Homo sapiens: one gene and its partners. The protein of the gene in region 2 interacts with the protein of the main gene of each other region in a pairwise test. Each region holds a gene or a part of one and is shown on either strand. Other genes may lie near its edges.

What was found.
Region 1: the proteins of TMEM63A (region 2) and GPR37 interact in a two-hybrid assay, tested with the Homo sapiens proteins (one large-scale study listed by BioGRID and IntAct).
Region 3: the proteins of TMEM63A (region 2) and DRD2 interact in a two-hybrid assay, tested with the Homo sapiens proteins (one large-scale study listed by BioGRID and IntAct).

The regions. Positions count from the first base shown.
Region 1 is NC_000007.14:124,755,717-124,759,370, forward strand, and holds part of GPR37 (prosaposin receptor GPR37 precursor), read right to left. Parts: intron 1-3,654.
Region 2 is NC_000001.11:225,848,132-225,851,457, reverse strand, and holds part of TMEM63A (mechanosensitive cation channel TMEM63A), read left to right. Parts: intron 1-1,378; coding exon 1,379-1,546; intron 1,547-2,445; coding exon 2,446-2,561; intron 2,562-2,903; coding exon 2,904-2,966; intron 2,967-3,326. UniProt on the Homo sapiens protein: Mechanosensitive cation channel with low conductance and high activation threshold. In contrast to TMEM63B, does not show phospholipid scramblase activity. Acts as a regulator of lysosomal morphology by mediating lysosomal mechanosensitivity.
Region 3 is NC_000011.10:113,426,802-113,430,455, reverse strand, and holds part of DRD2 (D(2) dopamine receptor), read left to right. Parts: intron 1-3,654. UniProt on the Homo sapiens protein: Dopamine receptor whose activity is mediated by G proteins which inhibit adenylyl cyclase. Positively regulates postnatal regression of retinal hyaloid vessels via suppression of VEGFR2/KDR activity, downstream of OPN5.

The DNA of each region.
Region 1 (3,654 bases), on a different chromosome or scaffold from region 2:
TTTATTCTCAGTAATTACAAAATCATTTCAAAATGTAATATTTCCCCCAAGCCCACAGTCCAGTTCTCAATCTTTGGTATTATTATGATGTTCCTAGTCAATCTTAAAGTGACCTGGAATTTCAGTTCCTTACCTTGGGGTTCTGATGAGTTTCCAAAAAGCAGTAACACATTTTTACCTATTTCCCTTTCTGACTAATGATATTGATTTGCATGACTGTGAACTCAAACTAAAAACAAAATTATGTATAGTTAGGTCATCATGATTTTAATAAAATTGAGAAACCATATTTTAGGACAGAATTTATCTGCTTTTAACCAAAATTTCACTATTGGTAGTCTGTTAAGGAAATTTCTTTCTTGATTCAATCTTCTTATAAAAGGCAGTTATTTCTAAATTGCATATCTTGATGCGAATTGGCTTATCAGATGCTTTTCCGATATAAAAAGGATTTGAATTAGGAAGACAATAGTAAAGATAGGCCCTGAAGATGGGAATTGATGAGGAAGGGGCTATTTTGACAGAAAAAAAGAAAAAAGTAACATCCCTGAATAGAGTCACAGACCTAATAAGAATGTCTCATTCTAGGCAGGGATCAAATCAATGACCTTGGCCTCATTAATGAATGCTATGAACTATTCAAGTGTACAGACAGATAACACTGAAAACTATTACAAATTCACAAATGGAAAGTATTCTGTCTCAAGAACAAGACTGACACAGTGATCATATCCTGCGTTTTATGGAAGTTTATGAAAAGTACCTACACTTACTCTGCAAATAAAAAAAGACCCTCCATATTTGACGTTGCAGTAATCCCATTCTCAACTCCACTCTGAAATTTTGGATGAGATCATCTCTTCTGGCACAAAGAGTATTATTCCAATTAGGATATTTAAGAGTTAGTCTTGGCAACAAGGTTGAGTTCATTATTGGACCTTGGCAGGTCAATTCATGGGAAGTGAAATGACAGGCGCATCCCTGGAGGATGGAGCAGAAGTGCAGAGGCAGAGACAAACTGCACTGCATAGCTGCCTTCCCATCCCTCTCCCACAATCTACATCCCAGACACAGGTCCATGTGCTTCCAATGGGATACTGTTAAAAGGTTGCCGCACATAAGACGAATGCCATTAAAGGTGTAAAAATTGTATCAAGGTCCATGCAGCCTAAATATGAAAGCAAAGGTAGACCCTCACCCACTCAGCCTTCGGTAAACTTATAAGCTCATATCTGTTTTACTTCTGCAGACACATTTGCCTCCTTGTCTCTGTGGAAGGATACTTTGCTGACATGGCAGGATACCTTGGGAGCCCTCAGGAGCTCAGAATAAATCTTCACTCTGATTATGTGCTTGAGAGATTAATCCAATTCTTGAGAAAGTCCATTCATCGTGCTCCCCTTTCCTCGACTCCACAATGGAGTCTAAAGTATCGCCCTTGTCCATCTTCTTTCTTAGGTTCTCCAAGGTCAAGTTAAACAATTTGTATATGTTTTGATTTTTTCAGAAGAAAAGGACTCAATTTAATATACTGTTATTACATTGCCAAATAAGCCATTCATTTAAATAAAATGTTTAATTTTGACGTATTTAGTGTCCTTATAGCTAATAAGGACTAATTGTAAAGCAGAGATAGATATCCTAGGCACTGGCACAAATTCCATATTTTAAAAGAAATTTCTAGAACTGAACTATTTGCTGAATTATTTTGCCAATTATTATTATGGACTTTCTATCCTGGGAAAGCTAAAGGAAACAAAAAAGCAAGAATTAAAAGATTTTCACATTTGTAACTTTTCATCATGGATCTAGGCTGTATAGGCATTTATGAAATTTATGAAGATTAATAGTAAGAATGTAACTGAAAAGAATTAGAGGGAGCACAGTTTTCCCTTTAATTTCTCCATCTCTGGTCATAACAAGCACAACTGTGACTTGACCCATTTCAGTGCCATTTCTGAGCTTCCACGATGCTTTGTTCAAACCTCTATTATAATATTCATCATGGTGTAGAACATTACTTTACTTTTCTGTAATTTTAATGGCAGTGGCTCATCTATGATATTCATCTTTGGAAACTTTTCCCCCTCTTCCTGTATTGCCTTCTCCTGCCCACTCCTAATAGTACCTCGCATAGAAGAAAAGCCAGGTAAACATTTGATAAATCAATGAATGGTGAACAAATGAACGAATGATGACACCTATGGAAAAGGATTACAGAAAATAATAAATTATTCAAATTGTTCTTTAATCAGTTATTGGGTGCTGCTGTTTTATATATAATCCTTAAAAGCTGAATGCCAGACAATATCTATAGAAGGGAAGTTAAAAAATCAATTTTCCTATTTATACTTCATTGACAAGCTTTAGAAAAGGACACATTCTCATTATGATCAATGGAAAAGGAAACTATTTGGATTTCTTATTTGAATATTATAAAACTTTTCTTTCTTGTGGAAGATCCAAATTCAGTTAACTTCACCATACACCATTCAGAAATGGAGTTATAAATAAAAGTGCACTCTAAGAAACACTTTTCTTCCTGTTAGAGTCATCAGCTAAATATTTTCATTTGCATGGGAATATATAAAATGATTACTAAAAGATTAATGGGAAGTCATAAAATATTTGTTCAGCACCATTCTCATATATTGAGCACATTTTCCCTAAGAATACTATTAGTAACTTTAAAATTGCTCATAAAACAGTAAGTTTCCACTTAAAAGTCCGGCAGAATACCTAATGACTAATCCACCTCTCAAAGAAAATTTACCATATGCCATGATAAATGTTCTATTACTTGAATACAGGCGTTCTAGGGAAATCTGTGTAGACTCAGATAGTTGTATGGCACTGTCATCTTCAACCTCCAAAAACCCTTTCTTTCTTGTCAGTGCTAGCTACAATCTAAGGCAATGAAAGAGCCATTTGTTCCACTCAACTTAAAACCAGTATTGCTAAAGTCATTGGAGAAGCTGGTTCCTCTCATTAGAAAAGATTCTAGACTTGTCACAAATTATTCCCAGACCAGAGGCCATGGTAAGACATGTTCCCTTTATTCTCTCTCCACCTCTGTGCAGGAGTTTTATCCCAGTAAAATAAAAATACAGTTAGATCTGGGGTTATCTCATTATAATTATTTGAAGCCTTCTGTTCTACAACACTCCATGAAGGTGTGGGTTCTTTAAACTAAAGAGAATCTCGATCATTCAAAACCTCCAATTAATGTCCAAACAGACCTTAATCTGTTATCTGGGATCTCGGTCAGATGATACCTTGATTCTGACTTCCATTAAATAATGAGCAAAGATTCATTCCAGTTGCCATATTTGATGTCTGAATTATTTGAATTTTTTTTTTTTTTTTTTGAGACAGGGTCCCACTCTGTCACCTAGGCTGGAATGCAGTGGCATGATCATGGATCACTGCAGCTTCAACCTCCAAGGCTCCAGAAATCCTCCTACCCCAGCCTCCTGAATGGTTGGGACTACAGGCATGCACCACCACATCCCGTTAATTTTTGTATTTTTTGTAAAGATGGAGTTTCGCCCTGTTGGCCAGGCTGATCTTGAACTCCTGGGCTTAAGCAATCTGCCTGCATAGGCCTCCCAAAGTGCTGAGATTACAGGGGTGTGCCACCACACCTGGCCCAAA
Region 2 (3,326 bases):
GCAGAGGTTGCAGTGAGCCAAGATTGCACCAGTGCACTCCAGCCTGACCAATGAGCGAGACTCCATCTCAAAAAAAATAAAAAATAAAAAAACAAAAGAACCTGGCATAATAGAAAAGGCAGCACCCACTTTCTGTTGGTCCCCTGTGTGCTCCTGTGCCACCCCTGGGGTAAGACCCTTGGGCCTCATTCTCTGTTGACTGTGATGAGGGCAGGGATCAGCCGGGTGGGAGAAGGCCAGGGGTGTGGGAGCACTGACATACAGGGGCTCAGCATGGGAAGGGCTGGGGAGGAATTGAGGCCAGGCATCCAACTGTGAAACAGCCTCTTTCCAAGATGATTCTGGAATGTTAGTGTTCTGTGGGGACAGGATCACAGACACTGTGACTCCCTTGGTGCAGGGTCTGTCCCACAGACCCTGACCCAGCGACGGATGAAAGACATACACTGCCGGGTGCGGTGGCTCTCGCCTGTAATCCCAGCACTTTGGGAGGCAAAGGTGGGCGGATCACGAGGTCAGGAGATCGAGACCATCCTGGTTAACATGGTGAAACCCTATCTCTACTAAAAATATAAAAAATTAGCCGGGCATGGTGTCAGGCGCCCGTAGTCCCAGCTACTTGAGAGGCTGAGGCAGAAGAATGGCATGAACCCAGGAGGCGGAGCTTGCAGTGAGCCGAGATCGCACCACTGCACTCCAGCCTGGGCAACAGAGACTCTGTCTCAAAAAAACAGACAGACAGACATACACTGACAGATATTTTGCCTGTCAGTGCGGCTAAGGGGCTCTGCAGCCTGAGTCTGCAGTGTAGTCCTCAATGCCAGGCGAAGTTCGCATTTATTTAGTACAGACTAAATGACAAAGGTCTCGAGTAAACACCACTAGAGGGTAATTAACATTGCCGACCCCCTGAATAGCGAGCAATCATGCACCAGTGGATGATCAAAGGTTGGTCTTAGGACCACATGAGTAAACAAGCTATTTAGGTAAACTCCCCCACATTCCTATGTATCTGCACCCTAAGCTTTTAAGAGAATTCAGCTGCCTTCAGCCAAACCCTTTACTGAAGCTATGCAAACCTCTCGGCTTTCCAAGAAGGTTTGTGTCTATTTCCTATAACTTTATCTTAAATTTTCTCCCACCACCCTGACCGATCCCCTACACCTTGGGGTCACAGATAAGTGAGGAAGTGGGTAGGAGAGAGAAAGTGAAAAAAAACTAGTAGCCAGAGGTGCAGGATGCCTCATTTTGTGTTCAGGCAGTAGAGCAGCAGCCCCAGCCCTGGCTCCTTGCCAAAATAGCCGCCCCGGAGAGGAAGAGGACAGAGGTGTCTGTGTGGCCCTGCGAGGTCTCCAGCTCACAGCCCCATCCCCTGCAGGCCTCATCTACATCCTGCTCAAGCACATGGTGGACCGGCACAACCTCTACTTCGTCTACCTCCCAGCCAAGCTGGAGAAGGGGATCCACTTTGCCGCTGTGAACCAGGCCTTGGCAGCCCCCATCCTGTGCCTCTTCTGGCTCTACTTCTTTTCCTTCCTGCGCCTGGGTGAGCAGCCCTTCTGACCTGGGGCCAGCCCTTGGCCTCCCAGCCCTGCATCCCCACCAGCCAGTCAGATCCCTCATTGCTTTCACAGCATCAGCATGGCATCCAGTCAGAATGTGGTGCCCAGAGTGAGGGCTGGTTAGGTGTCCCATCAGAACGTGGTACCCAGAATGAGGGTTGGTTACATGTCTAGTCAGAATGTGGTGCCCAGAGTGAGGACTGGTTAGGTGTCCAATCAAAACATGATACCCAGGGTGAGGGGCTGGTTGGGTGTGGTGTTGACAGCCTGGCTCCTAAGCTAGCCCGAGTGCAGGTGTAACCCTTGTGAAGGCCTGGTCAATTGTCCCATACATCCCTGGAGAGAAGATAGTGCCTTTATCAGCTGTGCAGGGACTGAACCAGAGGAAATGGGGAAGCTGATCCAGATTTGCCCTTTGAGGCTGGTGGTTGGGCCCAGCTCCTTGTACCTCCTGGCATGGAAGAGGTGGGGACGTGGAGGAGAGAAAACTGACACTCCTGGGGGAAAGACACGTCTGCCCCGGTCAGACTGGGGGTGTGGGAGGGTCCATCCTCTCTAGCCCAGGGCACTGGAGACTGGAGGGAACGGACCAGCAAGGAGGCTGAAGAATTGCCATTGACTTGGCACCCCAGTGCCTGAAATCTGACCAGGGATGATGCCAGTCATTCAGTGGGTCCCTCTGTGTGTTCCTGGCTGTGAAGACACCATCCTTGCTGCTGGAGTTGAGGGGTGGGGGTGGGGGGTTAGGCCTTACCTTTATTTTCTGCCTGAGGGAGAAGTCACGGGCAGTTTCCACACCAGGTGCGGCCCCTTCCTCAGCAGGGTGAGGGTAGGTGGTGGCCCCTCCCTGCCCACCCCAAGGCTAGCCACCCTCTATCACCAGGTATGAAGGCCCCCGCCACTCTGTTCACCTTCCTGGTGCTGCTGCTCACCATCCTGGTCTGCCTGGCTCACACCTGCTTTGGATGCTTCAAGCACCTCAGCCCTCTGAACTACAAAGTAAAGGCCCCCGACCCCACTGCCCGGTCAAGCCCTGGGAGGAACAGATGGTGGGACGGGCTCGCTGTCAACCCCGCCCACCCTTGTCTGTATCAACACAGCAGCAGCCTTCTCCAGATTCTGCTTCTCCATGGGAAAGGCGTGGGTGGTTGGGTGCCATGTGTAGCTTCCCTTCCTCCCCTCATCCCTGCACTCCCCCACCCCATCCTCTCTCGGGCTGCTGGGGAGCTTGGTGCCAGCTGGTACTATTATTCCGGGTGTTAATAGTCTGTGTGTTTGGAGGGTGTTTGTTCACAGAGATCAGTTTTGTTTATCATCGCAAGTTTTTGCTGTTATCTGCAGACAGAAGAGCCTGCAAGTGACAAAGGAAGTGAGGCAGAGGCCCACATGCCCCCACCGTTCACAGTAAGCTGTGCCCCTCAGCCTCTGAGCTTGTCGCCCTTTTTTTTGCTTTGGTTGTAACAGTCCCAACCAGATGGGCCCCGGCAAATCTTTGATCATCTCTTGCTAAGATCACATGGCAGGCAAGTTTGTGAATTAATGGCAGAGAAGGAATCCTGGTCCCCCTGGGTATTTTAACCTGCATATTTGAAACTGTTGAGGAGATAGAGTCTTGTCTCGATTCATGGCCATCCCCCTTGGTTTCAGTTCCCTGCTCTCTTTCCTTCTCTGCATATTTAATGCCTGGTGAGTTTGGGGCTTTAGTGAAGGCACATGGTAAGGCGCTAGGGTTTGACAAAGGTTTGTCATCAGCGATGCACCTGC
Region 3 (3,654 bases), on a different chromosome or scaffold from region 2:
ATGTCTCTGAAATCAGAATGCATTTTACAATGGATGACATCTTGGAGCTCTACTGGGGTTGGATGGCATTTTTTTCTTTCCTAGTGATATATAAAATAGTGGTGCATCTTCATTCGATTTTGTCTTAGAGTCTATGAAATGTGGTGATTAGTATGACAGTCATCGGCTATAGCAGCTGGGCTGGGAGAGCTGTATCTTCCAGGCCAGCTGCTACCTCATCTCAAGGGTCACTTGAGTTTGTCCTACAGCCAGGGCCCAGGGACAGGCTTTGTCTTTTCCTTCCTTTACTTCCTCCCAAGGAGTTGGTGGCTGCATCTTGAAATCCATCTCCCTTCATCTAGCCACCTATTTTTCAGGATGGGCCATAGGAGGCAGTGGGCCCAGGAGGACCTCAGACCCTAGTGAGCTGCATTTGAACAGCAACAGTCACTTCATCTTGCTGAGCCGTTGGCTTGTGGTCTGATTGCTTGTTTCATTTCATTCTTTTGCTTGGTTTGATTTTTAAAGTTGACATTCTCAAGGGCTTACCTGTGCCTGGCACATGGCCATGAGTCATCTTACTTAATACTCACAATTGTTGTTATCTCTATTTTGTGTATGGGAAAACTGGGCTCAGGAAAGCCAAATAATCTGGCTGAGGCCCCAAAGTTAGTAAATGGTAGAGTTGGGACTTGAACCCAGGTTTTTTAGTCCTCAACTCGAATGTTATACTAGCACCTCTCAGGCTAGAGTACCTTCTCTGTGGCAGTGGATTTGCTGATGTCTGAATTCCTGCTCAGCTTGATGTTTACATGGTGAGAGCCAGCTAGGCTGCCCCTGCTTGTGAGAGGTGAAAGCCCCAAGTAGATAAGGTGCTGAAGACACGATAGAAACCAGGACTGACACCAGGTGTTAAAAGATAGCCCTGTACTGGCCGGGTGCGGTGGCTCACGCCTGTAATCCCAGCACTCTGGGAGGCCGAGGCAGGCAGATAATGAGGTCAGGAGATCGAGACCATCCTGACTAACACGGTGAAACCCCGTCTCTACTAAAAATACAAAAAAATTAGCTGGACATGGTGGCGGGCACCTGTAGTCCTGGCTACTCGGGAGGCTGAGGCAGGAGAATGGCGTGAATCCAGGAGGCGGAGCTTGCAGTGAGCCGAGATAGCCCCACTGCACTCCAGCCCGGGTGACAGAGCAAGACTCCATCTCAATAACAAAAAAACCCCCAAACAAGCAAACAGACAAAAAGATAGCCCTGTACCAAGGTACTTATAGGGGTTACAGGTATTTAGGCATTTGCCATGTTTTCCCTTTTTTTTCCTATGGTGTAAATATACTACGTTTGTATTAGCAACAAAAAGCAACGAGAACAACCAATAATAAATAATAGATTAGAAAATCAAATGTGTGAGGCCTTTCTCAGAACTTGGGTACAGGGACTCTCCCTTACCCTGCAGAAGTAACCAGCACTCCAGAGAATGAATGCTCACCCTCAACCCCACCTGACCTGCAGTGCTCACATTTGCCATCTACATTGTACTCATAATTTTAAATCCTAGACTAGTGCCTGTAATCCCAGCACTTTGGGAGGCCAAGGCAGGAGTATCTCTTGAGGCCAGGAGTGTGAGACCAGCCTGGGCAACATAGTGAGACCCCCATCTCTACAAAACATTTTTAAAAATTAGCCAGGCATGGTGGCACATGCCTGTATTTCCAGCTACTCAGGAGGCTGAGGTGGTAGGATCACTTGAGGCCAGGAGTTGAGGCTGCAGTGAGCTATGATTGTGCCACTGCACTCCAGCCTGGGTGGCAAAGTGGGATTCTGTCTCTATTAAAAAAAAATTAAATCCCAGTTTACATCCTCCCTCCTCCAGGAAGTTCTCCACAAACGCCCCAGCCACACACATGTGCATATGCTCCTGAACATCAACTGTAGTGGACACGGTGGAGTGCCACCCAGATCCCCCTGCAGGACCACAGCCCTCATCCCCATCTACTGGGAGTGTTGGCAACTGACAGTTTTTGGCAATTGCCCACTGCTGAGGAGAGATGCCTCTTTCAAGGCCTCGCTGCTTTCCCTGGGACAGCCAGAAGCTGTGACATCTATGAGAGGGGATTAAAGGCCCTACCCTGTTGCCCTCATTTAGGCAACTGGCAGGGTGCCCTGTGGGGTCACCTGATGCCTTTCTTGTGACTTCTCCCTCTGGCCTGTCCTGCTTCCTCACTTCTTTGCACATCTTGATCCTGAGAGCATTCCCCTGTACATTTCCTGCAGGCTGATTTCCTCTTCAGAGTCTACTTCTAGGGACCTGTATTAGTCTGCTCTGGCTGCTATGACAAAATTCCACAGATTGGGTGGATTGAACAACAGAAATCTGTTTCCTCATAGTTCTGGAGGCTGGGACGTCCCAGATCAAGGTGTCAACAGGGCTGATTTTGCTTAAGGCCTCTCTCCATGGCTAGCAGATGGCCGCCTTCTTGCTGCATTCCCACTTGGTCTCTCCTCTGTGCGCGCATCCCTGATGTCTCTTTTTATGTCCAAAGCTCCTCTTATAAGGACTCCAGTCAGATTGGGTTAGGGCCCACCCTAAGCGTCTCATTTTAACATAATCAACTCTTTAAAGGCCCTGTATCCTAATACAGTCACATTCTGAGGTACTGGGGGTTAGGACTTCAACATATACATTTTGTGGGTTGGGGGAAGAGCATAGTGCAGACTGTAACAGGACCCAACATGCAGCACCTATGGCACCCTTGGGGTGCCTTACTTTTTCATCACTTGTTAATCTGGTAGCCTATGTTAGCAGGTGCCTTTCAAGTGGGAAGGGGTTTTCTTCCCAGTTGCACTAACAGAGCCTTTGATTCAGTTCAGCAAACATCTGTTGAATACGTACTGCCCACAAACCAGAGTCAAGAGTTGGGAAAGAACAAGATAGTATGGTTTTTATTTGTTCATTCCAAGAACAAGAGGAGGAATGAGCAAGACATGTTGTAACTCTTGTGATGTCTACACCCCAGTGAAAAAAAGAGACTCCTAAACAGGTGTCTCCTGCAGCACTGGGGTGTGTTTCAGTGCTGCAGGACCCTGAGGAGGGTGGGTGATGGCTCAGGCAGGAGGATATGGGTGGATTCTAAGACAGGAGGATTCTAGGCAAGACTCACTTTGAAGGATGCATAGGGACTGGAAAAGCAGAGGGAAGGGAAGTGAACAGAAGAGTTTTCCAAATCCCTTTCTTATTAAAGTAGGGATAATAATTAGACAAGATCAAGCATGTTCCAGGTAGTATGGCCATAGACAGGGATAATAATTAAAAGCCTCCGAGGGTTGTTTTGAGGATAAATGAGACAGTATATCCAAAAAACTTAGCAAACTATCAAACCCTTTACAAGTATATGATGCTATCATCAGCAGCAGGGAGTGGGGGGAGAAGAAGAGAGCGATGGTCAGGATGGGGGCAGTAAGTGTGCCTCACACGCCTCAGGCCCCTGACACTGCTTTGCACAGTGCTTTATGCCCAGCAGGTTCAATAAATGCCGATTGAGTAAATGAATGTCAGAAGCAGCCCCAGGCACCTGATCAATACATACATGCAGGCCTCCCGCTGTGGGCTCCAAATGGGAAGAGGGCTCAGTTGGTTTTGCAGAATACAGCATCAATATGACATATGCT